7 linked regions of the Homo sapiens genome follow. The protein of the gene in region 1 interacts with the protein of each later gene in a biochemical or structural test. Each region holds a gene or a part of one and is shown in the gene's direction. Other genes may lie near its edges.

Region 1 (4,819 bases):
TGCACCAGCGCCTGACTGCTGCTCTGCACCGCCGTGGTGAGAAGGATGCCTTGCAAAGGTGCTCCTCGTTCCTCCTTTTAAAATTCCACCCCAATGATGAGTGAGTGTACCCAGAGATGTCCCACACAGGTTTCCTTTCAAGAATGATTTCACCATAAGGCTACTGTCATCCGTCTTTGTTCATCATCTTCTCCTTAGCTTTCTTAGTTGTCAATAAAAAAGAAAAGAAAATATTCTAATTACTCCTTTTCTTTTTCTTTTTTTTTTTTTTGACAGAGTCTTGCTCTGTCACCCAGGCTGGAGTGCAGTGGTGCAATCTCGGCTCACTGCAACCTCCACCTTCTGGATCCAAAACAGTCTCCTGCCTCAGCCTCCCCAGTAGCTGGGACTATAGGGGCGCACCACCACACCTGGCTGATTTTTGCGTTTTTTTGTTTGTTTTTGTTTTTTAGTAAAGATGGGGCCTCACCATGTTGGCCAGGCTGGTCTCAAACTCCTGACCTCAAGTGATCCACCCACCTCGGCCTCCCAAAGTGCTGGGATTACAGGCATGAGCCACCGCGCCTGGCCTCTAATTACTCTTGGGATAATTTTAAATAAGTGGCCATTAAGTAGTAAGACACTTCTGTTGGCCCATTGGAACCCGTGAAGGAAGCTCTGGAGCTGTTTAAGGGAAGAGTGCTCATGCCACAGGCCCTAATGCCAGCTGAGCAGAAATGCCAGGCGAGTAGCTGGAATAGTCTCTACAGGAGATTTTAAATCTCTGTCAAAACCTGTAGTGGACAGGCTTCATCCAGAGAAACAGAAGCAGGTGGAGATACACATTAGAGACTCATGGCAAGGAATGGCTTATGCAGAGGTGGGCTGGCCAGGTTTGTGGGACGTCTGTAGGACAGGCCAGCCAGAAGGCAGCTGATCTCCCCGGCCGACTGAAGCTGCCTTCCACAGCAACATCTCCCACATGCCAGCAACAACCACGAGTGCATGTTCCAAAGCTATTAGTAATGTCTCACACTCAATAGCCATTAAAGCGTAAAAATGTCATTCCGAATGTTCTTTTGTTCTGGACTCTGTGAATAGCACTGCGTTGGTCTGAGTCACCATTGTGAAAAATAGGTGGATATCTAAAAGATGAGGAGAAACAGACCTATGTGAGGCCAGGATCTAGAATACAGAAACAGTTCTAAAATGTGGTAATTTGAAACAAGCCACTCAAGAGTAAAATATGAGACTAATGAGAAAACCCAGATGGACTGATAAAATAAGAAAAGGACTTTAACCCTCTGGGAATCAGGGAATTCAAAACTAAGATGGCAAAAAGATTTTTTTTTACCTTTACGGTACTGGAAAAAAATTTAAATTGTGACTATACCAAATATTAGAGAAGGTGTAGAAAACTTAGACCTCACATGAGTTCGACTAGAATGTAAATAGGAACAAAGATGTTAGAGAATAATCTAGAAAAAGTGAAGGTGGGTGTATCCTAAGATCTAACAATTCCACTTCTAGGTATCTCCTCTAGGGAAAACCTGGTCTGTGTGCATAAGACACACACAGTGGATATTCACTGAAGCAATGTAGTAAAACCCTGTTTTGAGATCATGTAGATTCACATGCAATTCCCTTCACCAGTTTCTCCCAACAATAACATCTTACAAAACCATAGTACAATGCCACAACTAGAAAATGAGCATTGATACAACCCATTAACTTTGTTCAGATTTCAGATTCCACCAGTTTACATGTACTCATTTTATAGACTGCTCTGTGTGTGTGTGTGTGTGTGTGTGTGTGTGGTATGCACGTGCGCTTAGTTCTCTGTAATTTTATCACCCATGTAGAACCATGTGACCACCAACACATCAGAGGACAGGAGAGTTTCATCACAGGATCCTTGATGCTACTCTTTATAGCCAAGCTGACTTCCTCCTTCCCCCTCCCTGAGGCTGGCAACCACAGTATGGTTCCTATTTTCTATAATTTTGTCGCTTTAAGAATGCTCTATAAATGGAATCATACACTATGCAACCTTTCGAGACTGGCTTTTTCCGCTAAACGCAATTCCCTTGAGACCCATCCGGGTTGGCAAGCATGTCCATAGGTGTTTCTTTTTAATTACTTAGTGGTGTTCCGTCATCTGGATGAACCAAGGTGTGTTCAACCGTTCACCCAGGAAGGGCACTTGGATTATTTCCAGGTTTTGGTTATTGCAAATAGAGCTGCTGTGAACATTCTTGTACAGGTTTTTGTGTGAACATAGTTTTCATTTCTCTGGGATAAATGCCCAGGAGTGCAATTGCTGAGTCATATGGTTAGCACATGTCTAATTTTATGAGAAACTGCTAACTCTTTTCCAGAATGGCTACACCATTTTGCATTCCCACCGGCGGTGTGTGAGTGATTCAGGACCTTCCCAGCCTGGGCAGCATTTGGTATTGCCACTATTTTTTTTTTTTATTATTTTAGCTCTTCTAATAAGTGTGTAGTGATATCTCCTGATGGTTTAATTTGCATTGTCCTGATGGCTAATGACATCAAGACCTTTTTATGTACTTATGGCCATCTGTGTATCCTCCTCAGTGAAAAGTCTGTTCATGTCTTTTGCCTACTTTTTAATTGGATTGTTTGGTTTTAACAACTGAGTTTTCCTAATTCTTTATATTTTCTAGATGCTGGCCTTACCACTCGGTGATTATTTTCTACCACTTTATCTTGTTTTTTCACCCTCTTCACAGAGTCCTTTGCAGAAAGTTTTACATTTTGTTGAATTCAAGTTTATTAATTTTACCTTTTTTGGATTTTGATTTTTGGTGTGAAGTCTAAGTCTTCACCTAGCCTGAGGTTCCCGAAGATTTTCTCCTTTTTTCCCTACAAATTTTATAGTTTCACATTTTATACTTAAGCCTATTTTCCATTTTGAGTTAATTTTTGTATGAGGTGTGAGGTTTAGGTTGAGGCTTATTTGTTTTGGTTTGGTTTGGGTTTTGCCAACGAATGTCCAATAGCTCCGGGACTATTAGTTGAAAAGGTGATCCTTCTTCCATTAAATTGCTTTTGCACCTTTGCTAAAAACCGTTTCCACTTATTGCTGTGGGTCTATTTCTGGGTTCTCTATTCTGTTCCATTAGTCTATATGTCAGTCTCTCTGCCAAGAGCACACTGTCTTGATTACTGTAGTTGCATAGTCAACTTTAATCAGGTGGAGTGACTTCCTTCCACTTTATTATTCTTTATAAAACTTATGTTAGCTATTGTAGGTTCTGGGCCTTTCCATATGAATTTTAGAATAGCGCGTTTATGGGTGCAAAAACCTTGCTGGGATTTTGATAGGAATTTCTTCAAATGTATAGATTAGGGAGAATTAATAGTTCTACTGTGTTGAGTTTTCCAATCCATGATCACAGGTTGTCTCTCTATGGGTAATTAGGTCTTCTTTAACTTCTTTCATCAATGTTTTATAAATTTCAGTGCACAGATTCTGAATCTGAAATTTCTTTACAGTGTACATAAGTGTTTTATTTTCTTTGGGGCATTTCTAAATGGCATTGTGTCTTAACTTCAGTTTCCACGTTTATTGTGGAGTAGGTAGAACTGTGAGTAATTTTTATGTGTCAGTCCACATTCTGCAACCTACTGAGCTGCCTTATTAGATCTAGGAGGATTTTTTTTGGTAGATTTCTTGGGATTGTCTATGTAGATCATCATGTTATCTGCAAATTGGATAGTTTTATTTCTTCTTTCCAATTTATATACTTTTTATTTCTTTTTCTTATCTTACCGTACTGGTTAGAATGTCCAGTGCTATATTCAATAAGAGTTGCAAGAACTTGCCTTATTCTGACCTAAAGGGCAAAGCACTGAGTTTTTACCACCAATTATGATGTAGCTATAGGATTTTTATGGATGTTCTTTATCAAGTCAATAGTCCATGTCTATTCATGAATGTGTGTTGTATTTTGTCAAATGTCTTTTCTGGGACAATTTATATGTTCATGAGATTTTTCTTCTTTGACTTCATGGTATGATGGATAGTTGATTGACTGACTCTCTAATGCTGACCCACCCTTGAGTATCTGATATATATTCCACTTAGCCATGTATATAACTTTTTTATGTGTTGCTAGATTCACTTTACTAATATTTTGTTGAGGACTTTTGCCTCTAAGTGTTTGTGAGATATTGATCTATAGTTCTCATTTTTTGTATAGTCTTTGCTAGTTTCAGTATCAGGATAACTGGCCTCATAAAATGAGTTAGAAAGTGTTCCCACTTGTTCTAACTTTTGGAAGAGATTGTATAAAATTGCCATAAATTTCTCCTTAACTGTTTTAGTAGAAATTTCCGGTGAAACCATGTGGGCCTGGGGATTTCTTTCTTGGGTATTTCCTTCCTTCTACTTTGTTTGTATATATTTAGCTCTTTTTTTTTTGGTTTCTTGAATTAGATCTTAGATTATTGATTTGAGACTTTTCCTGCTTTCTAATATAAGTATTTCAGGGTATGAATTCCCTCTCAGCACTACTGAACTAGGTGTACATATTTTATCGAGTAAAAGTTTTGATACAAAAAAAAAGGAGGGAAACACACTAATTCCCCATGAGTAGGGCTATAGATTTACGCTATGATTTACTTACAACAGTTAAACTACCCAGACTTTGTGTATCAACATGGACAAAATTCTAAATAACAGTGTTGAATGGAAACCAGCAAACTGCAAATGAATATATATAGTATTATTCTATTTCTTTAAAATTTTCAAATCCACAAAAGAACATGTGGTCATGATTACGTGGGATTATATGACATATAGAAGCCAGGT
Region 2 (4,819 bases), on another chromosome or scaffold:
TGTATTTCTTATAGGCAATAGGAATTCCTGAATATCCTGAACCCTATTAAGACATAAGATAACAAAAGTAGTTAGAACTGTTCTTGTCATAGCCAGTCTAAGACCTCTGCCTGTTTAAGCCACAGGCTGTCAAACAGAAAAAGCTCTCACTCCCTGGAGAGCTAGCCTGGGATGGAAACTGAATATGTTTCTTTCAGCAGCTTGTAATCTTTAAAACTTTCTACCTCCAGGTCTTGTCCTCTTGTACATTTATTCTGCTTGAGAAATTACTACAACCTCCACTGATGTCTTTTCTTTTTCTCTATGCAGTCAGCTGAAAGAATCGGACAAAGACAGAAGACTGTCAGTAGAGATTTGGGATTGGGATTTGACCAGCAGGAATGACTTCATGGGATCTTTGTCCTTTGGGATTTCTGAACTTCAGAAAGCCAGTGTTGATGGCTGGTAAGTAAGATTTTGCCTTGAAAGCTACCATACAGCTTGCTCCATCAAACGCGGGGTCAAGTATGTTTTCCTTTTTCTCCAAAAATTGAAATACTAAAACAGAGTCCCAAAGTGAAGTCTGGTTGATTGGATCTGCCTTGCAGATATGTTTTGTTTGGTCCTTGTACTAAAAACAAAAAAGAAAGAGGCCAGGCCTCGTGTCTGACACCTGTCATCCCAGCACTCTGGGAGGCCGAGGCAGGTAGATCACTTGAGCTCAGGAGTTTAAGACCAGTCTGGGCAACATGGTGAAACCCCATCTCTATCAAAAACATGAAAAATTAGCTGGGCATGGTGGTGTGTGCCTGTAGTTCCAGCTACTCAGGAGGCTGAGATGGGAGGATCACTTGAACCCTGGAGGCAGAGGTTGCAGTGAGCAAGGTGGTCAGAGATTGAGCCACTGCACTCCAGCCTGGGTGACAGAGTGATAAAAAAGAAAGAGAGAGAGAGAGAAGGAATGAAGGAAGGGAGGGAGGAAGGAAGGAAGGAAGGAAGGAAGGAAGGAAGGAAGGAAGGAAAGGAAGAAAAAGGGAAAGGGAAAGGAAGAAGAAAGAAAGAAGAAAGAAAGACGGAAAGCAGGAAGGAAGGAAGGGAGGAAGGGAAGGAGGGACAGAAGGAGGGAGGGAGGGAATTAGTTCTAGTATTTTAAAAATCTGGGGCTAGAAGGCAACAATTGAGAACAGTTGAATAGTTAATGCCCCCTTTAGACAGGACATGGATTTTCTATTTGTCACCGTCCTCACCACTCCCTATTTTATTACATCTGGGCCAATTTACTAAACTACATGATGAGACTGTAACTGCCCAGTGGCTTCTTTGTGCCTGCTGCCCAGACAGAGCCGATTTATCAAGATGGGAGAATTGCAATAGGGAAAGAGTTTTACACACATAGAGCCAGCTAAATGGGAGAACAGAGTTTTTTTATGACTCAAATCAGCCTCCCTGAAAATTTGGAAGCTAGGGCTTTTCAAAGATAGTTTGGCAAGGAGTAGGGTGGCTAGGGAATGGGTGCTGCTGACTGGTTGGGGATGCAGTAATAGGGGTGTGAAAAATGGTCCTCGTGCACTGAGTCCACTTCTGGGTGGGGCCACAGGACTAGTTGGCAGGTCCAGGTGGGGCAGTCTGGTTGTCAGGAAGGCAAAAGCCTGAAAAGACATCTCAAAAGGCCAATCTCAAGTTCTACAGTAGTGATGTTATCTGTAGGAGTAACTTAGGAAGTTGGAAGTGTTGTGAGCTCTGGGATAAAGGCTGATAATAATCCATGTCTACATCTTAGCAGAATTCAGGCTCCTTTCATTCTCCTAACTTGGCAATATTTCATTAGTTTTACAAAGGCAGTTTAGTTTTGGGAAAGGGCTGTCATAATTTAAAATATACAACAAATTTCTTTCAAAGTTAGGTTGGCGGTCTGGTCGGGGTGGAGCCATTGGTTACGAGAAATGCAAAAAAACCTGAAGAGACATCTCAAAAGGCCAGTCTACAATAGTGATCTTATCTGCGGGGGTCATTGGGAAAGTTGCAAATCTTGTGACCTCTGGAATAATGGCTGGTAATCCTTTATGTCTACACCTTAGCAGAATTCAGGCTCCTCTCATCCTCCTAACCTCATGGTCCCTCATTAGCTTTATGAAGGTAGTTTAGTTTTGGGCAAGGGCTATTATCATTTAAAATGTACACTAGGCCGGGCGCAGTGGCTCACCCCTGTATTCCCAGCACTTTGGGAGGCCGAGGTGGGTGGATCACGAGATCGGGAGATCGAGACCATCCTGGCCAACATGGTGAAACCCTGTCTGTACTAAAAATACAAAAATTAGTTGGGTGTGCTGGCATGTGAGGATCACTTGAACCAGGGAGGCGGAGGTTGCAGTGAGCCGAGATCATGCCACTGCACTCCAGCCTGGGTGACAGAGCAAGACTCCATCTCAAAATAAAATGAAATAAAATAAAATAAACACTAAATTTGTCACAAAGTTAACTTGGCCCGAGCCCAGGAAAGCGTAAGGGCAGTTTGGAGGTTAAAGGCAAGCTGGGGGTTGGTTAGATCAAATCTCTTTCACTGACGTCATCATTTTCTCCCTGTTACAATTTCTGCAAAGACAGTTCCATGACTGGCTCCATGGACACTAGAGTGGCTTGTACACTTCACCTGAAAGATATGAGCAACCCACTGTCAGATGGTGTCTGAGAAGCTACCGCTTCCTTGGGAGTCCTTAGCAAGTCTGGCCACAGATCATAGATGTACTGGGGTGTTGTTTTCATAGTCAGCTGCTGTGTCTCCTTTGTCCTGAAGATTTTATTTTGCTCCCTTCCTATGGCAAAAAAAAAAAAAAATATATATATATATATATATATATATATATATATATATATCCTCCAATGTTACCAACAGAGAGGCTGGGTAAGCCCCCTTGGCAACTGTTTCACAGTTAACTGAGTCAAGGAGTCAGAAGAAATAGCTTAACCTGGCACTATAACTTTGGGAGAAGTGGCAATTGGGCTGCTATTACTTCTTTAAGATAAATTGTCTCATATCTGAATTGTCTCATTCAGGACCTTTTCAGCTTCAAGTGAAAGAAAATAAAAATCAAACTGGTTTAGCGAGAAAGAGATGTGTCCTTTGGACCACACACACATCTTTCCTTTCCATTGTTCACCTTATGACTTCCTTGTCTTGGCTCCATGTTTCATCTTAGGCCTTTTTTTTTTTTTTTTTTTTTTGAGACGGAGTCTTGCTCTGTCACCCAGGCTGGAGTGCAGTGGTGTGATCTCGGCTCACTGCAACCTCTGCCTCCTGGGTTCAAGCAATTCTCCTGCCTCAGCCTCCCGAGTAGCTGGGACTACAGGTGCCCGCCACCACGCCCAGCTAATTTTTTGTAATTTTAGTAGAGATGGGGTTTCACCATGTTAGCCAGGATGATCTCGATCTCCTGACCTTGTGATCTGCCTGCCTTGGCCTCCCAAAGTGCTGGGATTGCAGGTGTGAGCCTCCGTGCCCAGCCTATCTTAGGCTTTTCTTGAAACATATATTGAGTGTCCACTAGGTGCTGGTCACTAGAAACACATGGAGGTATAAGACAGACATGACTTCATGGAGCTTAGCTTATGGCAGAGGGTGGGTTGGGGAGATAAACATTGAACAAGGAATTACGCAAATGACAAATCAATGACAACATGATGGAAGATGTGAAGAAGACAGGAGCTGAGAGTTTTGAACCCAAAAGTATCTGAGACAGATTTCAATCAGTTTAGAAAGTTTATTTTGCCAAGGTTAAGGATGTGCCAGTGACACAGACTCAGGAGATCCTGATGACATGGGCCCAAGGTGGATGGGGTACAACTTGCTTTTATACATTTTAGGGAGACGTAAGACATCAATCAATACATGTGAGATTTACATTGGCTCAATCTGGAAAGGCAGGACAACTAAAAGTGGGACGGGGAGGTGCTTCCGGGTCATAGGTAGATTTTACAATTTTCTGATTGGCAATTGGTTGAATGAGCTGTTATCAATAGAAAGGAATGTCTGGGTTACATAAGGAGTTGTGGAGACCAAAGTTTTATCATGAAGATGAAGCCTCCAGGTAGCAGGCTTCAGAGAGACTAGATGGTAATTGTTTCTTATCAGACTTAAGGTCTGTGTTGATGTTAATGCTGGTTGGCTTTTCCTGAATTCCAAAAGGAAGGGGATATAATGAGACATCGTGTCTGACTCTCCCTTCTCATCATGGCCTGAAACAGTTTTTCAGGTTAACTTTGGAATGCCCTTGGCTGAGAGAAGGGGTCCATTTACATGGCTAGGGGGCTTAGAATTTTATTTTGGTTTACAGAATGTACCCCAAAAGAGTTGTGTTAAAGCACAATTCACAAATGGTTAAAAACATAGTTCTCATAAGATAGATAATGGGCATTAATGGGCATTGGCCAAAGATTTCCTTAGCTCACTAAGGAGAAAAGCAGCAGGATGAATGAATGATTCCACAGAAGGTTTGATAAACTGATGTTCGTGTAGTCAGTAGAAAAAGATATGCTGAAATAACTTTGCTCAGTTAAATATAAAACTGACTGATATACAGGACAATAGAATCATAAGCTTTGGGGTTATCTACTAGAATGAAACAAAAAAAAGATTTTGGCCAGGCATGGCGGCTCACACCTGTAATCCCAACACTTTGGGAGGCTGAGGCGGGCGGATCACCTGAGGTCAGGAGTTTGAGACGAGCCTGGCCAACATAGTGAAACCATGTCTCTACTAAAAATACAAAAATTAGCTGGGCATGGTGGCAGGTGCCTGTATTCCCAGCTACTCGGGAGGCTGAGGCAGAAGAATCGCTTGAAC
Region 3 (4,819 bases), on another chromosome or scaffold:
CGGGGTTTCACCATGTTGGCCAGGCTTGTCTCAAACTCCTGACCTCAGGTTATCTGCCTGACTCAGCCTCCCAAAGTGCTGGGATTACAGGCGTGAGCCACTGCGCCCAGTGTCTTCATCATCATTAATAACAATACTGATGAGGTGGGAGGTTCGGTTAAGGTGCTTGGCTTTGCACTCAAGGAAGCACACACCTGAGTAACAAAAGCTGTTTAGGAAATGAGCCACTGTGTTCTCAGGAGCTAGGTGCCTGTTCCTGCCGTCTCTGATCAGTCGTGATGGAACCTGCAGATCAGACCAGGGCCCTACCTGTGGTTCCTTCTGCACCCCTGCCCTTCAGATCTGTGATGGGCAGGACCAAAGAGCAGGCCGAAGAGCTGGAACCACGAGCACAAGGACCATCTCGGCCCACTGCCCTGTGATAAAATGTGGCCCAGTGAACATCTCCGCCTCTGTCCAGTCAGATGCAGGCTCTTCCATCCTTGAAAAGGACCTAGTGAGAGTAAAGGGCAGGGGGCAGGAAGCATTTCATGTGTGTGGCGGTGGGGAGAAGAGTCGTGCGCACACAAATTCTGCTGCCTGTTGAGTGAGGCCTCTCCCTCTGCCTTCCACTGTAGCTTATGCTCTGTCTTCCTAGGCCAGTGAAGCAGACAGTAGTGCTTGCCCTCAAAAGCTTCTGAGTGGATTGGAACAGGATGTTAGTGATGTTCTTTACAAGGCCTCACTGGCCCCCAAGTTCACTTTCTGTTCCATTCATGTTGTCAAGTGTAGCTCCCAGAAGTAATTAACGCACTAAGCCTAAATGATGCAATGAAAGGTGCCTACACTTATACAGTGACACTACCATCCTCACCTACAATATTAAGTTCCCAGAGAAAAAAATTCGATCCCATAATATAAATTCTGTACTTACAAATTAAAATCTCGAAGGAATTAAAAATTTTTAATTATCTCCCTCTGCTTTTTTTTTTTTTTTTTTTTTTTTTTTGAGATGGAGTCTCACTCTGTCCACCAGACTGGAGTGCAGTGGCACAATCTCAGCTCGCTGCAACCTCCACCTCCAGGGTTCAAGTGATTCTCCCACCTCAGCCTCCCGAGTAGCTGGGATTACAGGCATGCACTACCATGCCCAGCTAATTTCCATAGTAGAGACAGGGTTTCGTCATGTTGGCCATGCTGGTCTCAAACTCCTGACCCCAAGTGATCCGCCCGCCTTAGCCTCCCAGAGTGCTAAGATTACAGGCATGAGCCATTGCGCCTGGCCTCCTTCTGCTCTATTTTAATCAAAAGGGTCCACCAGGATGCCTGGGTTCCCTCAGCAGCTGCAGCTTGGACCATCATCAGCCTGGGCAGACAGAGCAGTGCCAGGAACTCCCATGCTGGGTCAACCCTAGGCCTAGCCCAACCCTAGGCCTCATCCTGCTTCTCTAAAGCATAGTGAAACCTGATAGCATTAGTCTTCACAAAGCTGTGTGTCCCCATCACCATGTCCGCCTTAGACCTCATAAGAGACATAAGACATAAGAGACTTCATGCTATCTGGTGGAAAGACAAAGTAGGAGAAAAGACAGAAAACCTTCCCTGTTTCACTTCTTTAAGATGCTATTATCTAGAGGCCGTAACGTGAACACACAAATCTGAGATGAAACTCCAGTCCCCAGCTTTTCTTCTACTGGTCTTGAATCCCCATTCCCCATCTTCTGTCCCTCACCCACTGATGACTTTAACACCTGGCTTACTGCTCCTTTTGAGCCCCTGTTCCTGACTCTGCTTTTGGAGGCATCAGTCACCATGTGGATGATCCATCTATCCTCAATCTTTCTATTCCTCAGCTTCCTCAGCCACCTGATCCCATGGTCAAGTCACCATCTGCCCTGTATCTGCACTGCCCTTGGAATCTCAACAAGGCATCCGCCCTGTTTACTGCCTCCTTCCTCCCACCTCAGTATTCTCTTTTATTCCAGTCATTTTTGTCTTCATCAAGTCCTTAGAGTTATTGATGCCTCCACTTTCTCAACATCAGTCACACCGAACATGTCCTCACCTTCCTCCTTACTCTGTGTGTTTTTGAGTTCTGTTTTTGAGCGTTTGAGTTTTCTGATTTGAGTTTTTGTGGTATGTCATTATTACCTTTCCTTATTCCCTCATGCTTTCTTACTTTCATAGCAAACTCTCTAGTAAAACCCAGTTATATGCCTCTATCTGATATAGCAAACATCACTGGGCAAAAACACAAAACAGTGCCAAATGCTCTCACACTGAACTCATGACCACAAATCTCATAGAGGTAATTGGTGCCACCTAGCAATGCTATTGCTCTTTCTTTTCTTCCTGAAACCTCCAGCATCTGCTCTTGCCTGTCCCATCATACTCACACCTTAGCTTGTGACCTGGCCTCATTCTTCTCCAAGAAATCAGACAAGAACACTGTCATCCTCCCACCCCCAAACAACCAGCCTCTTCAAATCTGTACCAACTCTATTCTCTCTTGTTACAGTGGAAAAGGGTTTCTGCATCTCTCAATCCACCTGTCCACTGTGCTCTTGGCCCCATTCCGTCCTGCCTGCTCAGGGATGTTGCTGCTATAACCATCTTCTCTCCCACCTCCATCAGCAGTTCCCCTCTTTAACCACTACTCTCATCAGCCTATACATGTTACATTTCCTATCTTTTAAAAACAAAAAATCTGCTAATCTCACTTTCCCTTCCACCTACTATCCTATTTCTCTGCACCCCTTCCCAGCAAAACTCCTTTAAAGAGTTGGCTTTCGGCCGGGCGCGGTGGCTCACGCCTGTAATCCCAGCACTTTGGGAGGCCAAGGTGGGCGGATCACAAAGTCAGGAGATCGAGACCAGCCTGGCCAACATGGCAAAACCCCATCTCTACTAAAAATACAAAAATTAGCTGGGCGCGATGGTGCATGCCTGTGATCCCAGCTACTCGGGAGGCTGAGGCAGGAGAATCGTTTGAACCAGGGAGCTGAAGGTTGCAATGAGCCAAGATCGCGCCACTGCATTCCAGCCTGGTGGCAGAGTGAGACTCCATCTCAAAAAAAAAAAAAAAAGAGTTGGCTTTCTCCCTGCAAGTTCTCTGTTCGCTCTGTTCCTTCCAGGCTTGGCCCCACTGGGACTGCTTTAGTCAAGATCACCAGTGACTGTCCTCTTGCCAAATCCAAAGGTCATTTCTCTTTTCTGATTTTTTTTTTTTTGTCCTTACAGCAGCATTTGAAAGAGTCAGTACCTCCCTCCTCTTCCTCAGAACACTTACTTCCGTAGCATCACCCCACTCACTAACCTGGCAGCTCCTTTGTTATTTCTTTGTGACCTCCTCCTCTAAAACATTGGAGTATACTAGACTCGGGCGCTAGCCCACTCTGTTTTCTTTTGACACACTAGCCCTTCAGGATCTCAGCCAGTCCTATGGCTTTAAGTACAACCCATATGCCAGGGATCCTCAATCTGCGTCTCTAGGCCAGTCACCTGTCCCCCTTCCCAATGTGGGCTCCTGATTTCCTCCTTCCCCCGACACCAGTCCACCCCACTCTTAGCCATCTAAATAAATAGTACCACCTTCTGCCCAGTTGCTCATGTCTAAAATCCGGGAGTTACCTTCCTTCCTCCCCTCTCCTCACCCCTCACATCCAGTCTGCCACTGAGTCCTGATACAGGCAGAGCCTCCCCACTTTTCTCCAGCGTAACTGCTGTCATCTGAACAAGCCCTCGTCTCTCACTGCTTGCCCGTGGGACTGTGGGCATGACTCATATGCGCAGCCTCGTCTGCAGTGGCCTGGCAACTGGTCCTCCTGCTCTCATCCTAACCCACTTTTAGTTTTTCAAATGGCAGCTGCTGGTCCTTTTGAAAATATAAATCATTGTCACTCCTTGTCTTACAAATCCTGTTTGAGGCCAGGTGCGGCAGCTCACGCCTGTAATCCCAGCACTTTGGGAGGCCGAGGCGGGTGGATCACCTGAGGTCGGGAGTTCGAGACCAGCCTGACCAACATGGAGAAACCCCGTCTCTACTAAAAATACAAAATTAGCGGGCATGGTGATGCATGCCTGTAATCTCAGCTACTGGGGAGGCTGAGGCAGGAGAATCACTTGAACCCGGGAGCCGGAGGTTGCAGTGAGCCAAGATCGCGCCATTGCACTCCAGCGTGGGCAATAAGAGTGAAGCTCCATCTCAAAAAAAAAAAAAAAAAAAATCCTCTTTGGTCTTCCAGAGATCTTGAGAGAAAATCCGCCCATGTATACAAAATTTAGAGACTTTTGATCAGATGTGGTGGCTCACGCCTGTGTAATCCTACCACTTTGGGAGGCTGAGGCAGGTGGATCACCTGAGGTCAAGAGTTTGAGACCAGCCTGGCCGACATGGTGAAACCCTGTCTCTACTAAAAATACAAAAATTAGCTAGGCATGGTGGCGCACACTTGTAGTCCCAGCTACTTGGGAGTCTGGGGTGGGAGAATCACTTGAAACTGGGAGGCGGAGGCTGCAGTAAGTCAAGATCATGCCACTGCACTCCAGCCTGGGCGACAGAGCAAGACTCTCTCAAAAAAGAAAAAAAAAATGAGACTCTTAGTGTTGATACCTAGTCCCTAGACTTGATATGTATTTCTGTCTGAGAGATCATGCTCAATTCCTCCAGCACACACACACTGTGGCTCACACCCATGGGGACCTTATGGTTCTGATGGTTTTAAAGGCCCAGTCTTCATCCCAGCTGAGACACTGTGTAAAGCAGTGTTGAGAAGGCACTGTGGTAGCAAAATCCATTCCACCCACCAGTGCCATAAAAACTAATATAATGCCTGATCGA
Region 4 (4,819 bases), on another chromosome or scaffold:
ATCGAAGTATTTATGATGGCTTCAGATCAATGTTTTCCTAGAAACTGGAACCCAGCAGACCCCACTGAAGCCCTCCTTTCTCTTGCTCTCCTGCGCCTCTCCTACACTGCCCCCTGCCCTTGGCTGAGCTCTGAGACTGACAGCCCCGCTTCTCCCTCACCCCAGACTGCGGCATGAATGTGCACCATAAATGCCGGGAGAAGGTGGCCAACCTCTGCGGCATCAACCAGAAGCTTTTGGCTGAGGCCTTGAACCAAGTCACCCAGGTGGGCAGGTGCCATGGGGACCCTGGACACAGGGCAGTGGGGTCAGGGACAGTCAAGGCTTACAGCCACTGCTGGGGAGCCACAGACAGCCAGGATATATTTAGACCCAGGACTCTACTTCGGGAAGATGCAACTCAAGAATTTAGGCAGCAGAGGGAGGGGGGCTTTTTTTCATAAGAAATTCATTATTCAGGCAGTTCTTTACTTGAGGGTGAACCTGGGGACCACAGGAGTGGGTGTTGGAACACTTTGAACTAAGACTTTGGGTGTGGACGTTTGTATGTGGGGGGGGCTTGAGGGATGCCACAAAACCTAAAGGTAAAATTTTAGAATCAATCAGAAATGAAGCTAAATAGTCAAATAAAATCTATCGAGTGAGTGGTTGGGAAGGTAGGGTTCCGTTTACAAAACTTCTGTTTGTAATCAGAGCCTTTCAGACCACCAAGGCTTCTCTGGGCTCCTGGAAGAGTGCGTGTGTGTACACGCAGCCCGAGTAGGGGGCCTGGGCTGTGCCCCTGTTGTCTCCTCTTGGTGTTAAGGGTGGAGTTATACCTGGGAGTCTTCCTTCTGGGCTGGGAGTTCTGATAATGGTCTGACCATCTGGCCCCCCACCTCTGCTCCCTCCCCAGAGAGCCTCCCGGAGATCAGACTCAGCCTCCTCAGAGCCTGTTGGGATATATCAGGGTTTCGAGAAGAAGACCGGAGTTGCTGGGGAGGACATGCAAGGTGAAGCTGGGTCCATTGCCCCATTACGGTTTTTATTCCCCCTGAGGCCAAAGAAAGGGGACTGTCCTCCCTTCCATTGTCAAGTGAGACATGGAAGGAACCACCGGTCCTGGGGAGCGAGCCCCTTCCTCTCTGAGGCCCCTTCCCCCAGCCTACCCCAGGCCCCGGGGGAGGGGAGTTGTGTAGACTGAGACCCCGATCTGAGGAGGTGCCATCTCTCGGGCAGACAACAGTGGGACCTACGGCAAGATCTGGGAGGGCAGCAGCAAGTGCAACATCAACAACTTCATCTTCCACAAGGTCCTGGGCAAAGGCAGCTTCGGGAAGGTGAGGGCTGTGAGCCGGGCACCTGCTTCCCACCCCACCCTGGCTTCTTCCCGCTTAGGTGGCTGAGGTGGGAGTCTGTGAATCGGGCTGTGGCCCCTGCCCCGTCCTCACCTGCTCAGCACCCGTGTCTCCCCATCAGGTGCTGCTTGGAGAGCTGAAGGGCAGAGGAGAGTACTTTGCCATCAAGGCCCTCAAGAAGGATGTGGTCCTGATCGACGACGACGTGGAGTGCACCATGGTTGAGAAGCGGGTGCTGACACTTGCCGCAGAGAATCCCTTTCTCACCCACCTCATCTGCACCTTCCAGACCAAGGTGCCCGGGCCTCCTGCCGTCACCACCCCATGCCACAGCCATGTCCCACAGCTCCTCAGCCCCCCTCAGTCAGGGCTGTGTCTCCCCTTCAGGCCACTTAAGGCAGGGCCATGCTTTCCCCCCTCATGCCTCCCAGGGCAGAGTCGTCCACCTCAGCCAGGGCCTGTCCCTGCTGTTTCCTGTTGGGGCTTGGCCCCAGTGGCCCTCAGTGAGGGAGCCTCCTGCCTATTCCTCACCCCTGCTCACCACCCTTCCCACCCCAGGACCACCTGTTCTTTGTGATGGAGTTCCTCAACGGGGGGGACCTGATGTACCACATCCAGGACAAAGGCCGCTTTGAACTCTACCGTGCCACGTACGTAAGGGCCATGGTGGGGAAGGGCCCAGTGTGGAGGAAGGGCTACTGGCTCAGAGCCCACTTCCAGTCTGCCCTCCATGCCTTCTTCCCTCTCCCTAGAAAAGCCAGCCTGGGCTAGAGCGGCAACTGGGGAGATGTGGGGGTAGCCTGGGTCGGCACCACACAGGAAGCCATGGGTGGCAAGTGAACTGCGGCTGGGTGCGCAGCGCAAATACTCTGGGTCCTGGCCGCTCCGTGGGCCACAGCCAGGGCAGCCTTGCAAATGGTGGTCCTGCATGACACAGGACACAGGACCCTGGTGCGTGGCCCCCAGACCTGCTTCTCCCCATTCACATGCCCCTTACCCCAAACTAACCGTGTATGTGTGTGTGTGTGTGTGCATGCATGCAAACACATATGTACATGCATGTAAATGCATACACTCTTAGAGAATTGGCTCACTGAGAGCTTTCCCTTCAGAACTTTCTGCCTGGGCTGCCAGCCCCCACTTGCCTGATACAAGATGTACTTGATCATGCTCAGGTGGTCCATGGAGTTATTTGCAGCATTTCTTGCTCCTGGAAGTGGGGTTGAGGGCCCGAGGAGAAGCAGAGGCTGCTCGGCAGAGATCCCGGAACACTTTATCCCTCTCTCTTGCCCAGGTTTTATGCCGCTGAGATAATGTGTGGACTGCAGTTTCTACACAGCAAGGGCATCATTTACAGGTGCGGGGGTGAGGGCAGCGGGGGCTCTTGGGAGGGGAGGCTCCAGCCCCATCATATCTTCTGAAATGCTCCAAGCAGGATCCCCCCAACTCCAGTTCCTTCTCTGCTGGAAATCAATCTTTAGCTGGGTATTTGCCTATGCCTCCCACCCTGGTGTTAGCATTCCTGTGGCCACCATTTGAGGCTGGCTCAGCTTCAGGAACTAGGAACTCACTGCTCATATTTGACACCATCGCCCCACCCATCCTTGGAGCCGTCAGTCTCGCTCTGAAGCCCCATCGAGTCATCTAAGCTTCTGCCAGAAGGGACTCCTTCCATAAAGTCTCATCTAATAAGTTATGATTCCATCCTATGGTGGGAACTGTACACCCACCAAAAAGGCTGAGGTCAGGCTCTGTATACTGATGTGGGATAATGCCAAGATATGTTGTTAAGTGGAAAAACAACCTGTGGGAAAGTGTATATCGAATATTAGCATTCAGCCTTTAAAACGTGGGAGGGAGACTGAGCGCGATGGCTCACGCCTGTAATCCCAGCACTTTGGGAGGCCAAGGTGGGCAGATCACCCGAGGTCAGGAGTTCGAGACCAGCCTGACCAACATGGTGAAACCCTGTCTCTACTAAAAAATACAAAAGTTAGCTGGGCATGGTGGTGGATGCCTGTAATCTCAGCTACTCAGGAGGCTGAGGCAGGAGAATTGCTTGAACCCGGGAGGCGGAGGTTGCAGTGAGCTGAGATCATGCCACTGCACTCCAGCCTGTGTGACAGAATGAGACTGTGTCTCAAAAAAAAAAAAAAAAAAAAAAAAAAAGGTGGGAGCGAGCTGCATGCTGCCATATGCTTGTCCACGCCTAGAATTGCTCTAAGGAGAGCCTCATGATTGAGCTCAGTGGAAGGTAGACTTTGTACTGTTTGCCATTTCTAGTTCCCATATGCATTAAGTATATACTCAAATGACTAATTACTAAATATAGACATGGTCTCTGCCTGTGGGAAGTAGACAAACCTGAACCTGGGGGTCACTTCTGCTGCTGACTGCTAGGGGACCCTGGGCGAGTGACATCACCTGTTTGAGCCCCATTTGGGCTTCAGGAAGTAGGGCAGTGTATGCCCAGCGTTTAGCACACAGTAGGGGACTTGCAAGAAGCACCTGTTTTTAGGATCTCTTTCTCCTTCTGCTTCCTTTTCTGTTTCTCATTCCCTTGTACCCTTGGGGACAGTCCTGGACTAATACGGCTGAAAATTAGGACATGGGGGGCAGGGTTGGAAGGAGAAGAAATGTCCCCTGCTGACTCTTACCTGTCCCCTGTCCTTAGGGACCTCAAACTGGACAATGTGCTGCTGGACCGGGATGGCCACATCAAGATTGCCGACTTTGGGATGTGCAAAGAGAACATATTCGGGGAGAGCCGGGCCAGCACCTTCTGCGGCACCCCTGACTATATCGCCCCTGAGGTGAGCCGATACCCTTCCAGCCCCCCGCTCAGTCAGGCACCTTGCCTCCCCACGGTGGGCCAGGGAAGGATTCCCAAGGGCAGTGATGTCCAAGCCAAAGCCCATAGGCTGAGGCGGCCTGGCTAGGCTTCGTGCCCAGGGGCCCCTCTCAGCCTCAGCACCTCAGCTCCTGCTGACCTGCTGCTCTCCCCACCGCCAGATCCTACAGGGCCTGAAGTACACATTCTCTGTGGACTGGTGGTCTTTCGGGGTCCTTCTGTACGAGATGCTCATTGGCCAGTCCCCCTTCCATGGTGATGATGAGGATGAACTCTTCGAGTCCATCCGTGTGGACACGCCACATTATCCCCGCTGGATCACCAAGGAGTCCAAGGACATCCTGGAGAAGGTGGAGGCCCTGGGCTGGGCTGGGCTGGTCTGGGCTGGGCTGGGGCAGGGGCTGGCAGACACTGGGCTTTGGGTGAGGAGCTTCCTGTCTCTGGAATGGCAGCCTCAGTGGTGCTGCAGTCCTAACATACGGGGTATTGCTCTCTCACCATGTTCCCAGGAACTCCTGTCTGAGTCCTGTGCATAGAATCAGCCTGACATGGTGACTAAGGGCCCAGGGTCAGGAGACAGACCCGAGGCCAAATGCTGGCTCTGCCTGGGACTAGCTGGTCACTTAACCTC
Region 5 (3,500 bases), on another chromosome or scaffold:
TTTTTTTCATCTGCAAAAATGGGGCTAATGATAGAACCTACTTAGCATAGTTGTGAAGATTAAATGAGGTAGTACATAGTAAACTTCCAAAGCTGTTGGCTGCTGGTGCCTTTGTTACTGCCTAAGTGTTGGACCAAAGGAAACTGGAAGGTGATTTTCATTCATGGTGGTAGATTATGTGTTAAGGTGCCTTTGCTTCTGGACAATCAACTCTCCCTAGTTTGGTTTTTTGTACCATCTGCATCTACCTCTATGACTCATTGCTGTGTTACAATAGGAGGCATCTTTGTGTAGGCTGCCCAAGACAAACAGGGACTGTTTCCCTGTGTTTCATAGCACTAATGAGAGGGAAAGCTGTACACATCTTCATCTTTCACTTCTGAGAGTGTTCCTCAAGCAAAATGTTCCCTATCTTGGGCTACCAGCAGAAAGAATTCTGTTGCTTTCATGATTTCTGTGATTAGACCAGGGCACAATTTTGAACGTTATCAGACAATGTGAACTAAAGAGGAAGAAAATCCATTTTGACAGTAAAGAACTCTTGGTACCAAATTGGCAAGGTTGCTTTTCCCTTGGCACCTGTGCTTACCTCTAACATAGCCCTTACCCAGTTCAGAGATGGAGTTGGGTAATACGGGACCTGAAGTTGATGCAAGTTGTAGGGGTCCTCAAAGAAAAATCATGCAAAAATAGCTTTCTTTTGTGTATTTTGCAGAAACATGTGAGCATATTACTAGGGTCTTAAGTGTTAGAATGAGATAATGAGATAATATTGTTCCTCTGTTTAAAATGTTCTTCTGGTTCTATTGCAGTTACACAAAATCCAAACTCCTTATATTGGACTATGAGACTGAGTGATCTGCCTGTTGTCCCCACCACCCCCTCCCACCAATCTCTTTAACCACATTTCCTGCCACTCCTTTCTTCCACCACACTAGTCCTCTTTCACTTCCTCTATGGGATGGTCTATACGCACTGCAGGCCTCTGTACATGCTGTTCCCTTTGCCTGGAATGAATCACTCCTCCTTCCCTAGGTAGGCAGGAAGCAGTCTTCACCTATTTGCCTAAATGTCACTTCCTCTGAGATGTTTATAAGCATCTCAGAGGAATGTGGTCCCTCTTTGTCATGTCACCTGAGCTGCTGCTTTTTTTTTTTTTTTTGGTATGGGGGTCTTGGTATGTTGCCCAGGCTGGTTCTTGAACTCCTGGACTCCAGTGATTCTACCACCTCAGCCTCTTGAGTAGCTGGGACTATAGGTGGGTACTACTGTGCCTGGCGCTCACCTGAGCTTTTAATAAGACTTAATCATTGTAATTTTTCATTGGGGTGTTCTTAATATTTATCTCTCCTGTACACTATAAACTTTAAGCACAGCACTGCCTTTTTGTTTTTTGAGACGGAGTCTCGCTCTATCGCCCAGGCTGGAATGCAGTGGCACTACCTCGGCTCACTGCAAGCTCCGCCTCCCAGGTTCATGCCATTCTCCTGCCTCAGCCTCCCAAGTAGCTGGGACTACAGGCGCCCACCACTGCGTCCAGCTAATTTTTTGTATTTTTAGTAGAGATGGGGTTTCACCATGTTAGCCAGGATGGTCTCGATCTCCTGATCTCGTGATCCCAAAGTGCTGGGATTACAGGCGTGAGCCACTGTGCCCAGCCTGCACTGCCTTTTTTTGACTCACCACTCTGTAAGTACACCCAAAATAGTTCTGGCACATAATAGGTCCATAGATGTTTGTTGAGTCAGTGAGTGAATGAAATTTCTAATATTTGCACAACGGGTTTAATAAACCTTTTTATGTCTTTTCCTTTTCTTTTCCCCTTTATGCTCATTCCTTTTTTCCCCATTTTCTTTTGTTTTAGTCACCCACTCAACCATTCTAAGATATTTATATGGTTTTATAATTCCACCTGTTAGTCTGGTTATGTGTATACCCTTGGGAAGTAGAAGGATGGTTTTGTATGTATCTGCTTAGGATTCTAAAATGTTATTGTGCTACAAATCTGCATTTCATAGACAGGATAGAATAGGTTATGTTGAGGTAACAACCACAAAATCTCAGTAATTTAACACACTTTCAGGTCAGTGGGAGGCTCTGTAGATTGGAGTCCTTTAGGGATCCAGGCTGATCGAGGCATCGTCTCTCAAGTATACCTACATGAGGAGGGAATCTTGTGAAGAGCTACATTCAGGCTCTTAAAGTTTTGCCTAGAGGTGAGCCTTGTCATTTTTGCTGCCATTTCTTTGGCCAGAGCAAATCATGTGGCCATGTTGACCTTCAAGGAGGGCAGTGACCTTTTTGGAAGGGGGAGAACCACGAATATTTGTGTGTTTTTTTTGGGTTTTTTTTTTTTTTTTTTTTTTTTAAGAAAGGGTTTCGCTCCCACTGCCCAGGCTGGAGTATAATGGTGCGTGCCACCACGCCCTGCTAAGTTTTGATTGTTTTGTAGAGATGGGGTTTCACCATGTTGCTCAGGCTGGTCTTGAACTCTTGGGCTCAAGCGATCTGCCCACCTCATCTTCCCAAAGTGCTGAAATTATAGGTATGAGCCACTGTGCTGGTGCACCAGGAGTATTTGAACAGAAGCAATGACCATCCCTAAATTTTATATCAGTTTCTTCTTTGTTTTCTTTTCTTTTCTTTTTTTTTTTTTTTTGAGATGGAGTTTTGCTCTTGTTGCCCAGGCTGGAGTGCAATGGCATGATCTCGGCTCACCGCAACCTCCGCCCCCCAGGTTCAAGCTATTCTCCTGCCTCAGCCTCCTGAGTAGCTGGGATTACAGGCATGTGCCACCGTGCCTGGCTAATTTTGTATTTTTAGTAGAGACAGGGTTTCACCATGTTGGTCAGGCTGGTCTCGAACTCCTGACCTCAGATGATCCGCCTGCCTCAGCCTCCCAAAGTGTTGGGCTTACAGGCGTGAGCCACCATGCCTGGCCTTAGTTTCTTTTTTTAACCAATTTTGTTTTGAGCTCTATTCATGATGCTATACAATATGTGTCTAGTTCATTATTTCTCTTGGTTGTAGAGCAGTCATGTTTGCCTGCCACATTTTACTTATTTATTTCTCTAGAATTAGACATCTTTGTTGTTTCCCAACCCCTTGCTGCCTCAAACAGTCATGACCATGCCCATCCTTGCACATCCTTGTCTCCTTTGGATGTTGTGAGAGAGTTTCCTGTGGAATGTACTCAGAAGTGGAATTGCTGGGTCTTAGGGTACATTGTCTCTCCTTCCAGGATAAGGCATGTTATCTCTTTCTCTCTCTCTTTTTTTTTTTTTGAGACCGAGTCTCACTCTGTTGCCCAGGCTGGAGTGCAGTGTTGCAATCCTGGCTCACTGCAACCCCTCCCCACAAGGTTCAAGCAATTCTCCTGCCTTAGCCTCCTGAGTAGCTGGGATTACAGGTGCCTGACACCATGCCCAGCTAATTTTTATATTTTTAGTAGAGACAGGGTTTCATTATATTGCTCAGGCTGGTCTCCAAGTCCTGACCTT
Region 6 (3,597 bases), on another chromosome or scaffold:
ATCAGGCTGCAAATTTTCCAAACTTTTATGCTCTGCTTCCCTTTTAAACATAAGTTCCAATTTCAAACCATCTATTTGTGAATCCATAAAACTGAATGCTTTTAAGAGCACCCATGTCACATCTTGAACACTTTGCTGCTTAGAAATTTATTCCCCCAGATACCCTATCATCTCTTTCAAGTTCAAAGTTTCACAGATCTCTAGGGCAGGGGCAAAATGCCACCAGTCCCTTTGCTAAAGCATAGCAAGAGTGATCTTTGCTCCAGTTGCCAGTGAGTTTCTCATGTTCGTCTGAGACCACTTCAGCCACGGCTTCATTGTCCATATCACTAACAGCATTTTGGCCAAAACCATTCAACAAGTCTCTAGGAAGTTCCAAACTTTCCCACATCTTCTTAACTTCTTCTGAGCCCTCCAAACTATTCCAACCTCTGCCCATTACCCAGTTCCAAAGTTGCTTCCACATTTCAAGTATCTTTATAGCAGCGCCCCACTACCTCAGTGCCAGTTAACTGTGTTAGTCCATTTTCACACTACTATAAAGAAATACCCAAGACTGGGTAATTTACAAAGGAAAGAGGTGTATTGATTCACAGTTCCATGTGACTGGGGAGGCCTCAGGAAATTTACAATCATGGTGGAAGGTGAAGGTGAAGCAAGCCTGGACCTTCTCACGTGGTGAGAGGGGAGAGCAGAGTGAGATTGAAGAAGGAAGGGCCCCTTATAAAACCATCAGATATTGTGAGAACTCACTCACTATCACTAGAACAGCATGGAGGGAAACTGCCCCCATGATCCAATCACCTCCCACCAGGTGTCTCCCTAGACACATGGGGATTATGAGGATTACAATTCATGATGAGATTTGGGTGGGGACACAGCCAAACCATATCAGTAAAGTCTTAGGTTACAAAATCAGTGGTACAAATCAGTAGCACTATTATATACCAACAGTGACCAAGCTGAGAATCAAATCAAGAACTCAACCCCTTTTACAATAGCTGTAAAATAATTAATAATAATAATAGTAATAGCAATAAATTACCTAGGAATATACTTAGCCAAGAAGGTAAAAGATCCCTACAGGGAGAACTACAAAACACTGTTGAAAGAAATCATGCATGACACAAATGGAAATACATCCCATGCTCATGGATTGGAAGAATCAATATTATGAAAAAGACCTTACTGCCCAAAGCAGTCTACAGATTCAGTGCATTTCCTATCAAAATACCAACATCATTTTTCACAAAATTAGAAAAAAATCCTAAAAGTCACATAGAACCAAAAAAGAGCATATGTAAATACATGTGTGTGTGCACATGTGTGTGTGTGTGTGTGTGTATATGTGTGTGTATGTGATATTGAGACAAAGTTTTATCACTTAAAGAACTAAGATTTAGGTACTTCATTAATTTACTTACATGAACACCTAATTCCTTAATAATGTTAGATAATGTTTCTCTAATATCACAGACCTGTTTTTCACAAATTTTACGCATTGATAATATAAAAATCTGTTAAAGGAAGAAAATTTTTCTTCTAAGTAGCTTCTTTTTCTGAGTTCAGTCTATTACTGCAATACAATATTTATAAACCTATTGGCAGTTTGCCCCAGTAAAAGTAGTACAAGATATTTACAGGAATATCTTAATTCAGAATTAAAGTAATGATAATTGTTTGCTTTATATAATATGTTAGTTCTTCTGATCTTAGAGTAACCCACTCCTTTGGGTCATATATTCTTATTCATATTTATCTATCTACGTTTACGTCATGTTATTTGCAGTATAGTAGGATAGTTTCTTGGTGTATGTACAGTCTCTAAAGTCTAAGTATTTTTTGGAATATCTAGGGACATGAAACTCATGCATAAAAATCAATTATAAAATAGTACATGATTTAGAATCAAATACTAAATTGTGTTGTTTAAATTATGAGTGTTACATAGAAATTTAGAAATGGGAAAGATTAACATGGGCTGAAATAGAGATGATGTTGAAGAACACAGAAGTGGAACTGGATCCTACATAGACATAGTTGGGCATGTCTTTCTTGGGAAATGTGGTTGTGTGGTATACATTGGCCTTTCAATGTGGCCATTACCGATGTGTACAGTTCAAAGTTTGGAGTTTCCCTGTTTGTCTTATTCTGTATCTCCACAGTGATTTGAACAGCACTGAGCATGTAACAGATGCAAGATCACTACTTGGATTAAAAATCAATGAAGAAAGTGTATAATACTACATATGATATATAAATGTATGTTTTATGGCATAATATTAAAAGCTAGGTTCTTTCATGACATATGACTACAAAATAACAGGGCTGATTATTAATATACATACCAGAACTTCTTATGCACCGAAGTGAGTGGCATTCACCTTCAAAGTCATCATCATGGAAGCCTGCATACTCTTCTCCATAACACTGTCATTTCTCAAAATATTTTTGGAACTCCTTTTTTGAATTTCCTTCAGAGAGTCTATGACTCATTCTTTTCAGTATCCTCAGAGTCTTTTTCAGCTAAGAGTGAATTTGGTTTTTGGAAGCAGAAGTCACGATAGGGCCAGGGATGGCGAGTAAAAGGATCTGCTGAGAAATGCTACTTTGGATGACTATAAGTAATGAGTATTTTTCCTAGCTTGACTCATAAAATAACCAAAGGCAATTATCTTCTTAAAACAAAAAGTAAGTTGCAAGTTTTATCATTTTAAAACCAAGCCTGAGCTGGGTGCAGTGGCACATCCCAGCTACTGAGGAGGTCAAGGCAGGAGGATCTCTTGAGCCCAGAAGTTTGAGACCTTGTGTCAAAAAAAATAAGAAGAAGAAGAAGAAGAAAAGAAAACCAAATCTGGATTACTCTTACATAACTGTCCTACTCCAGAATTGATCATGGCTTCCTGCTTTTGGGGCCCCACCAGGCCTATTCAGCCTTACTTCCCGCCCCCTACCACAGTCATCTTCTTTATTAAGCATTTAGTAAAATGGAGGATAGAATGGTTAATTTAACCTTTATTCAGTCTTGTCACATTCTTGAGTGATCTCTGCAAGTGTTCATGATTATTGTAGCACTCAGTAGCTGGCAAAGATGTAAAAAGTTAGAGTGAATATACCTGGAACATATTCTGAAAATCTGTTTGTTGGCAGTGGTGGATTTGTCTTTGTACCTTTTTACAAATTCCATCAGCGTATTTTTCTCATTTGCCCTTTATTAAAGGCAGAGGATCGGATTGCTTCATTGCAGATTACTGGAGGTTCTTGCAAGATATGACCTCTGAGTTCTTCAAGGAAGAAATTCCTGTTTTAATTGTTGAACTATACTTCAAAGATGATGTAAAGAATTTGCTGAAATATTTATGTTAAAACTCATTAGACATTAAAGTCTAATTTCATTGTATTGATTGTGGATAATGTGGATAATTTCATTGTATTGGTATCTTTCTTTCTGTATCTAGTTGAAAAATCTAAGTTTAGAAGAACTACAGATGCGGTTAAAAGCACTGGACCCCATGATGGAACGGGAGATAGAAGAACTTCGTCAGAGATACACTGCGAAAAGACAGCCCATTCTGGATGCGATGGATGCAAAGAAAA
Region 7 (4,819 bases), on another chromosome or scaffold:
TACTCTCTTTACCCATCTTCATTATAACTTACAGATTCTTACTAGGCAGCTTCTTGTGTGTGCTGTGAGAATATGAGACCAACCTGTAGAAACTGGAATGATATTAAATGAACCAAGTTTCTAGTTTAACTTTTTCACAACCACTTTTTCTTACTGAAAAACCACTTGTATCTTACTTCATTTGTTAGATGCTGTTCCCAAAACTGCTAATACACTACCTTCTAAAGAAGCTATAACAGTTCAGCAAAAACAGATGCCTTTCTGTGACAAAGACAGGACATTGATGACACCTGTGCAGAATCTTGAACAAAGCTATATGCCACCTGACTCCTCAAGTCCAGAAAATAAAAGTTTAGAAGTTAGTGATACACGTAAGTAACATTTTCAGTGCTTTCCACTAGGGATTTGTCATTAAGACTACCAGTGCTTTAAAAGAAAGCTCTTGCTCTTTTGTTTGTGCAGCAATCACAGGCACACTGGCAATAGCTCTTTTGTGAGTTGTTTCCTCCTGATATATTAAGAACCATCTTCATTGTATTAATCAGTGATTAGAGGCAATAGGACATGCAAACAACCAGAGAAGCTATGAAAAAAAATAAGTAAATATTTACATAACTTGGAAAGGTCACTTTTTAAAATAAAATATGTGACTAGAGTTTTGGGTAGGTAGACTAGACCCACTCAAATGTGTGACTAGAATTTTGGGTGGGTGACTACAGTGTTCAGAGGGTAGGATCACCAAACAGAGTTCTCAAGAAAAACTTATAATTTGTATTTTAGAAATGGTTTTATCTTCTCTCATCTTGTCTAATTCAAAATCATAAATATTTGCATATATGTGAAATCTTCAAATGAGAAAATATTATAATTATTAAAACGAATTTTTAAAATTTAAGCATGTTTTTCTTATTTTGACATAGGTTTTCACAGTTTTTCATTTTATGAATTGAAGAATGTCACAAATAACTTTGATGAACGACCCATTTCTGTTGGTGGTAATAAAATGGGAGAGGGAGGATTTGGAGTTGTATATAAAGGCTACGTAAATAACACAACTGTGGCAGTGAAGAAGCTTGCAGCAGTAAGTTATATTTTCAGGAATAAAAAGAAAGAGTTGCTTCATAGTGTGCCCTATAATAGGTTTTAAAGTTAATCTTTAGGAAATACATTATTTCAGTATGTATTTTCTTTAAATAAACATCATTCTAAATAGTAGTTCTTAAAATTTTAAAATCTGTTGAACACTATGGACCCTACCCCTAGAAAAATGTGGTTATGTCCATGTACACAAGATCATACATACAATTTTGGGAGATTCACAAACTAAAGTTGAGAAGCCCTGCTCCACATAGTGCTTCATGTGTAATCAAGATTAAAATGGTAAGATACCAGGAAAACTATTTTTAAAAAACCTTGTTTGCATTACTTTTCCCATTTAAAAATAAAATTTAGGAAGTATACATTAAGAAAAAACATTAAAATTTTTTTTATCTGTGTCCTTTGTTGCCATTTCTACTGAGGTGTTTACCTTTTACTTACTTGTTATATTCTAAATCTTTTGTTAGAGCCTAAAAATATCAATAGAATGCATATGTATGTGATAAAGATAGTCACTCTTTGTCATATATGTTGCAGGGCTTTTGTAGGGTTTTTTTTTCCATTTTGCACCTAAATTGCTTATGTTTTCTGTTTCCTAGAATTTTTTTCAAATTTTTTTGTGTAGTGAAATTTCGTGTTATTTCATTTTGTTTCCACAACTCAGTGAAATTTATATATATTTTTCATTCCACTAACCAGCCATGGGCCTTGAGCAAATCACTAGTATTTCTAGATCTCAGTTATTCTGTAGAATTGGGAGAATAATACACTATTGTTTTAAAGAAAGGGAGATGAGCCAGCTGATCTCTTGATCCCTCTGAGCATTAGGAACCTTAGAATTGTGTAGTATTACATTGTATATTTTATTTTTTCAGATGGTTGACATTACTACTGAAGAACTGAAACAGCAGTTTGATCAAGAAATAAAAGTAATGGCAAAGTAAGTCTTAATCTGGCAGTGCGGTGTAGTGGAAAGAAAAAAGACAAGGAGTAAAGAACCTGGTTCACTCTAGAGTATGCCATGAACTAGTGATGTTTGCACATATATGAAATTAAAATAAAGTGTTTAGATTAGAGAAATTGAAAGTACTTTTGGCTCCATAATTCTATGATTACATATACTCATATGCCTGGAGATTAAATAGCAGTCATTTTTATTTATTTATTTTTTTTGAGACAGAGTCTCGCTCTTTTGCCCAAGCTGGAGTGCAGTGGCATGATCTCGGCTCACTGCAACCTCTGCCTCCCAGGTTCAAGCGATTCTCCTGCCTCAGCCTCCCGAGTAGCTGGACCTACAGGCGTGTGCCACCATGCCTGGCTAATTTTTTTCTGTATTTTTAGTAGAGACGGGGTTTCACCGTGTTAGCCAGGATAGTCTCGATCTCCTGACCTTGTGATCCACCTGCCTCAGCCTCCCAAAGAGCTGGGATTACAGGCGTGACCACGCCTGGCCGCAGTCATTATTTTAAGTCACAACAAAGTTACGTGAAATTTCACTATCATGTCCTTCATTATCATGTTTTCCACTTCCAGAATTCATGAGAGATCAATTGTAGAGATACTTAAAAACAACTATCTATAGAGTAATAGGCCCTTATATATAAAGTAGCATCTATAGAGCAACTAGAGTCATGTTATCTGTAAGGATGCTTAGAAGGCATTGATCCTGTGTGCTGGAAAATTGTTGGACATCATCAGGAAAAGTAGGAGGGACAAAGTAGGAAATGTATTCTAATTATTATAGTGATTAATAGTGATTGATATTTGAGTGTGTGCAACATGCCAGACATTGTGCTATGTACTTTATGTGCATTGTCTGTCTAACCCTTACAACTGTTACAACTGCCCATTTTGTTTGTTAACTGAGATTTAGAAACATTAAATAGCTTGTCCAAGATCACATAGCCAGTAAGTGTTAGAGATGGGATTGAAATCCAGATCTGTTTGATTGCGGAGCCTGAACTTTAGATCTGAATCGTAATGGGATTTACCAAATTATACCCATTAAACCCACTGCTGTAAATCACCAATCATAGTTACCTAACCTCAAGTAAGAAGAATAGACTAGAATTGATTTATGCACGGTAAAAATGATACATGCTGAAAAAAGATCAAACTTTTTTTTTCAGGATTTGTCTTCTTCACTCCTACCCCTACTCTCCAATTCTAAAAGTAACTTGTTCACAGTAGGTCATCTGGAAAATACAGGAAAACATTTTTAAAATATACAAGCCTATATGCATGCAGGACTTAATACGTAGGTGATGGGTTGATAGGTGCAGCAAACCACTATGGTACACGTTTACCTGTATGACAAACCTGCACATTCTGTACATGTATCCCGGAACTTAATAATACAAACCATCTCTCAAATATATCACTCAGAGATAACCACTGCTAATATTTTTATATACTTGCTTCATGATGTGTGTGTAGCATTTTCCCATGTCACTAAAAATAATTTGAAAACATTTTAAATTATTGTACAACAGTCTAGCATATGTGAAAATCATATTTTATTTAACCATAGCTAGGTTTGTTTCTAATTTTCAGTATTAAAAATAAAGCTTCTTTAAAGTTCTTTGCACATAAATCTTTAAATGCAGTTATACTTACTTTATCATCTAGGGTAAAGTCCTAGAAAAAGAATTACTAGGTAGGAATGCATGAACTTTTTAAAGACTTTCTAAATACACATTCAAATGGCTTTTGAGATAAGTTACTACCAGCAATGTATTACAATTTCAAACTTTACTGGTTCCTTACCTTCATTTAATATCATTACTTTTTTTTTTTTTTTTTTTTTTTTTGAGACGGAATCTCGCTCTGTTGCCCAGGCTGGAATGCAGTGGTGCGATCTTGGCTCACTGCAAGCTCCGCCTCCCAGGTTCACGCCATTCTCCCGCCTCAGCCTCCAGAGTAGCTGGGACTACAGGCGACCGTCACCATGCCCGGCTAATTTTGTTTTTGTATTTTTAGTAGAGACGGGGTTTCACCACGTTAGCCAGGATGGTTTAGATCTGACGTCGTGATCTGCCTGCCTCGGCTGGGAATACAGGCGTGAGTCACTGCGCCCGGCCTATTATTACAATTTTTTAATAAGTGCCAGTCTCTGGATCTTACTAGCAGAATGAACTTGGCCAAGTTTTTTAACTTTCTATTCGTTAATTTTCTCATCTATAAAATGGGACAATAGTACTTACTTAAGTTATTGTGAGGATTAAATAAAACAGATAAATCACTTGCCACACTGCCTCGTTTATAGTATAAATTCAGCAAACGTTAACTACTCATGTTTAAAATGTGCCAGTTTGGTGGAAAATGGGACACTTACTGTTTTAATTTGCACTTCTTCAAATATTTATGAGACTAGAAGAAATTGATATAATGAACTGCTAGAATTGTGGATCATTTTGAATGAACAAAATGAATAAGCACTTAAATAATAAAACACTTATCATGTGCCAGATACGTTTCTAGGCTGTCATGTTTACATTTGCTCATTTAATTGTCTCAGCATCCATATTACATACTGTTTTCTGCATTTAGCAGATAAAGGAGCTGAGGCTCAGTAAGGCTGTTAACTTGCGGTAGGTCACATATCCAGGAGGGGGCAGAACTAGACTTTAAATTTAGGATGTATAACTCTGAGCCCTGTTTTCTTTCGTCTTACCACAGATGCTGCCACTTTATTAGATTGTAGGTCTCTTTAGTTTTATTA

The links.
Region 2: of the proteins of MBP (region 1) and PRKCB, one has a biochemical effect on the other in vitro, tested with the Homo sapiens proteins (one study listed by BioGRID).
Region 3: of the proteins of MBP (region 1) and PTPRA, one has a biochemical effect on the other in vitro, tested with the Homo sapiens proteins (one study listed by BioGRID).
Region 4: of the proteins of MBP (region 1) and PRKCD, one has a biochemical effect on the other in vitro, tested with the Homo sapiens proteins (one study listed by BioGRID).
Region 5: of the proteins of MBP (region 1) and MAP2K1, one has a biochemical effect on the other in vitro, tested with the Homo sapiens proteins (one study listed by BioGRID).
Region 6: of the proteins of MBP (region 1) and STK3, one has a biochemical effect on the other in vitro, tested with the Homo sapiens proteins (one study listed by BioGRID).
Region 7: of the proteins of MBP (region 1) and IRAK4, one has a biochemical effect on the other in vitro, tested with the Homo sapiens proteins (one large-scale study listed by BioGRID).

Annotation. Positions count from the first base shown.
Region 1 is NC_000018.10:77,125,499-77,130,317, reverse strand, and holds part of MBP (Golli-MBP), read left to right. Parts: exon of another isoform or gene 1-1,958; intron 1,959-2,669; exon of another isoform or gene 2,670-4,819. UniProt on the Homo sapiens protein: The classic group of MBP isoforms (isoform 4-isoform 14) are with PLP the most abundant protein components of the myelin membrane in the CNS. They have a role in both its formation and stabilization.
Region 2 is NC_000016.10:24,093,854-24,098,672, forward strand, and holds part of PRKCB (protein kinase C beta type), read left to right. Parts: intron 1-309; coding exon 310-444; intron 445-4,819. UniProt on the Homo sapiens protein: Calcium-activated, phospholipid- and diacylglycerol (DAG)-dependent serine/threonine-protein kinase involved in various cellular processes such as regulation of the B-cell receptor (BCR) signalosome, oxidative stress-induced apoptosis, androgen receptor-dependent transcription regulation, insulin signaling and endothelial cells proliferation.
Region 3 is NC_000020.11:3,029,716-3,034,534, forward strand, and holds part of PTPRA (receptor-type tyrosine-protein phosphatase alpha isoform 1 precursor), read left to right. Parts: intron 1-4,819. UniProt on the Homo sapiens protein: Tyrosine protein phosphatase which is involved in integrin-mediated focal adhesion formation.
Region 4 is NC_000003.12:53,184,709-53,189,527, forward strand, and holds part of PRKCD (protein kinase C delta type), read left to right. Parts: intron 1-165; coding exon 166-266; intron 267-895; coding exon 896-992; intron 993-1,218; coding exon 1,219-1,319; intron 1,320-1,458; coding exon 1,459-1,632; intron 1,633-1,895; coding exon 1,896-1,987; intron 1,988-2,631; coding exon 2,632-2,694; intron 2,695-4,011; coding exon 4,012-4,150; intron 4,151-4,349; coding exon 4,350-4,538; intron 4,539-4,819.
Region 5 is NC_000015.10:66,389,912-66,393,411, forward strand, and holds part of MAP2K1 (dual specificity mitogen-activated protein kinase kinase 1), read left to right. Parts: intron 1-3,500. UniProt on the Homo sapiens protein: Dual specificity protein kinase which acts as an essential component of the MAP kinase signal transduction pathway.
Region 6 is NC_000008.11:98,455,862-98,459,458, reverse strand, and holds part of STK3 (serine/threonine-protein kinase 3), read left to right. Parts: intron 1-2,165; coding exon of another isoform or gene 2,166-2,168; exon of another isoform or gene 2,169-3,220; coding exon of another isoform or gene 3,221-3,274; exon of another isoform or gene 3,275-3,458; coding exon 3,459-3,597. UniProt on the Homo sapiens protein: Stress-activated, pro-apoptotic kinase which, following caspase-cleavage, enters the nucleus and induces chromatin condensation followed by internucleosomal DNA fragmentation.
Region 7 is NC_000012.12:43,771,992-43,776,810, forward strand, and holds part of IRAK4 (interleukin-1 receptor-associated kinase 4), read left to right. Parts: intron 1-188; coding exon 189-371; intron 372-920; coding exon 921-1,081; intron 1,082-1,973; coding exon 1,974-2,038; intron 2,039-4,819.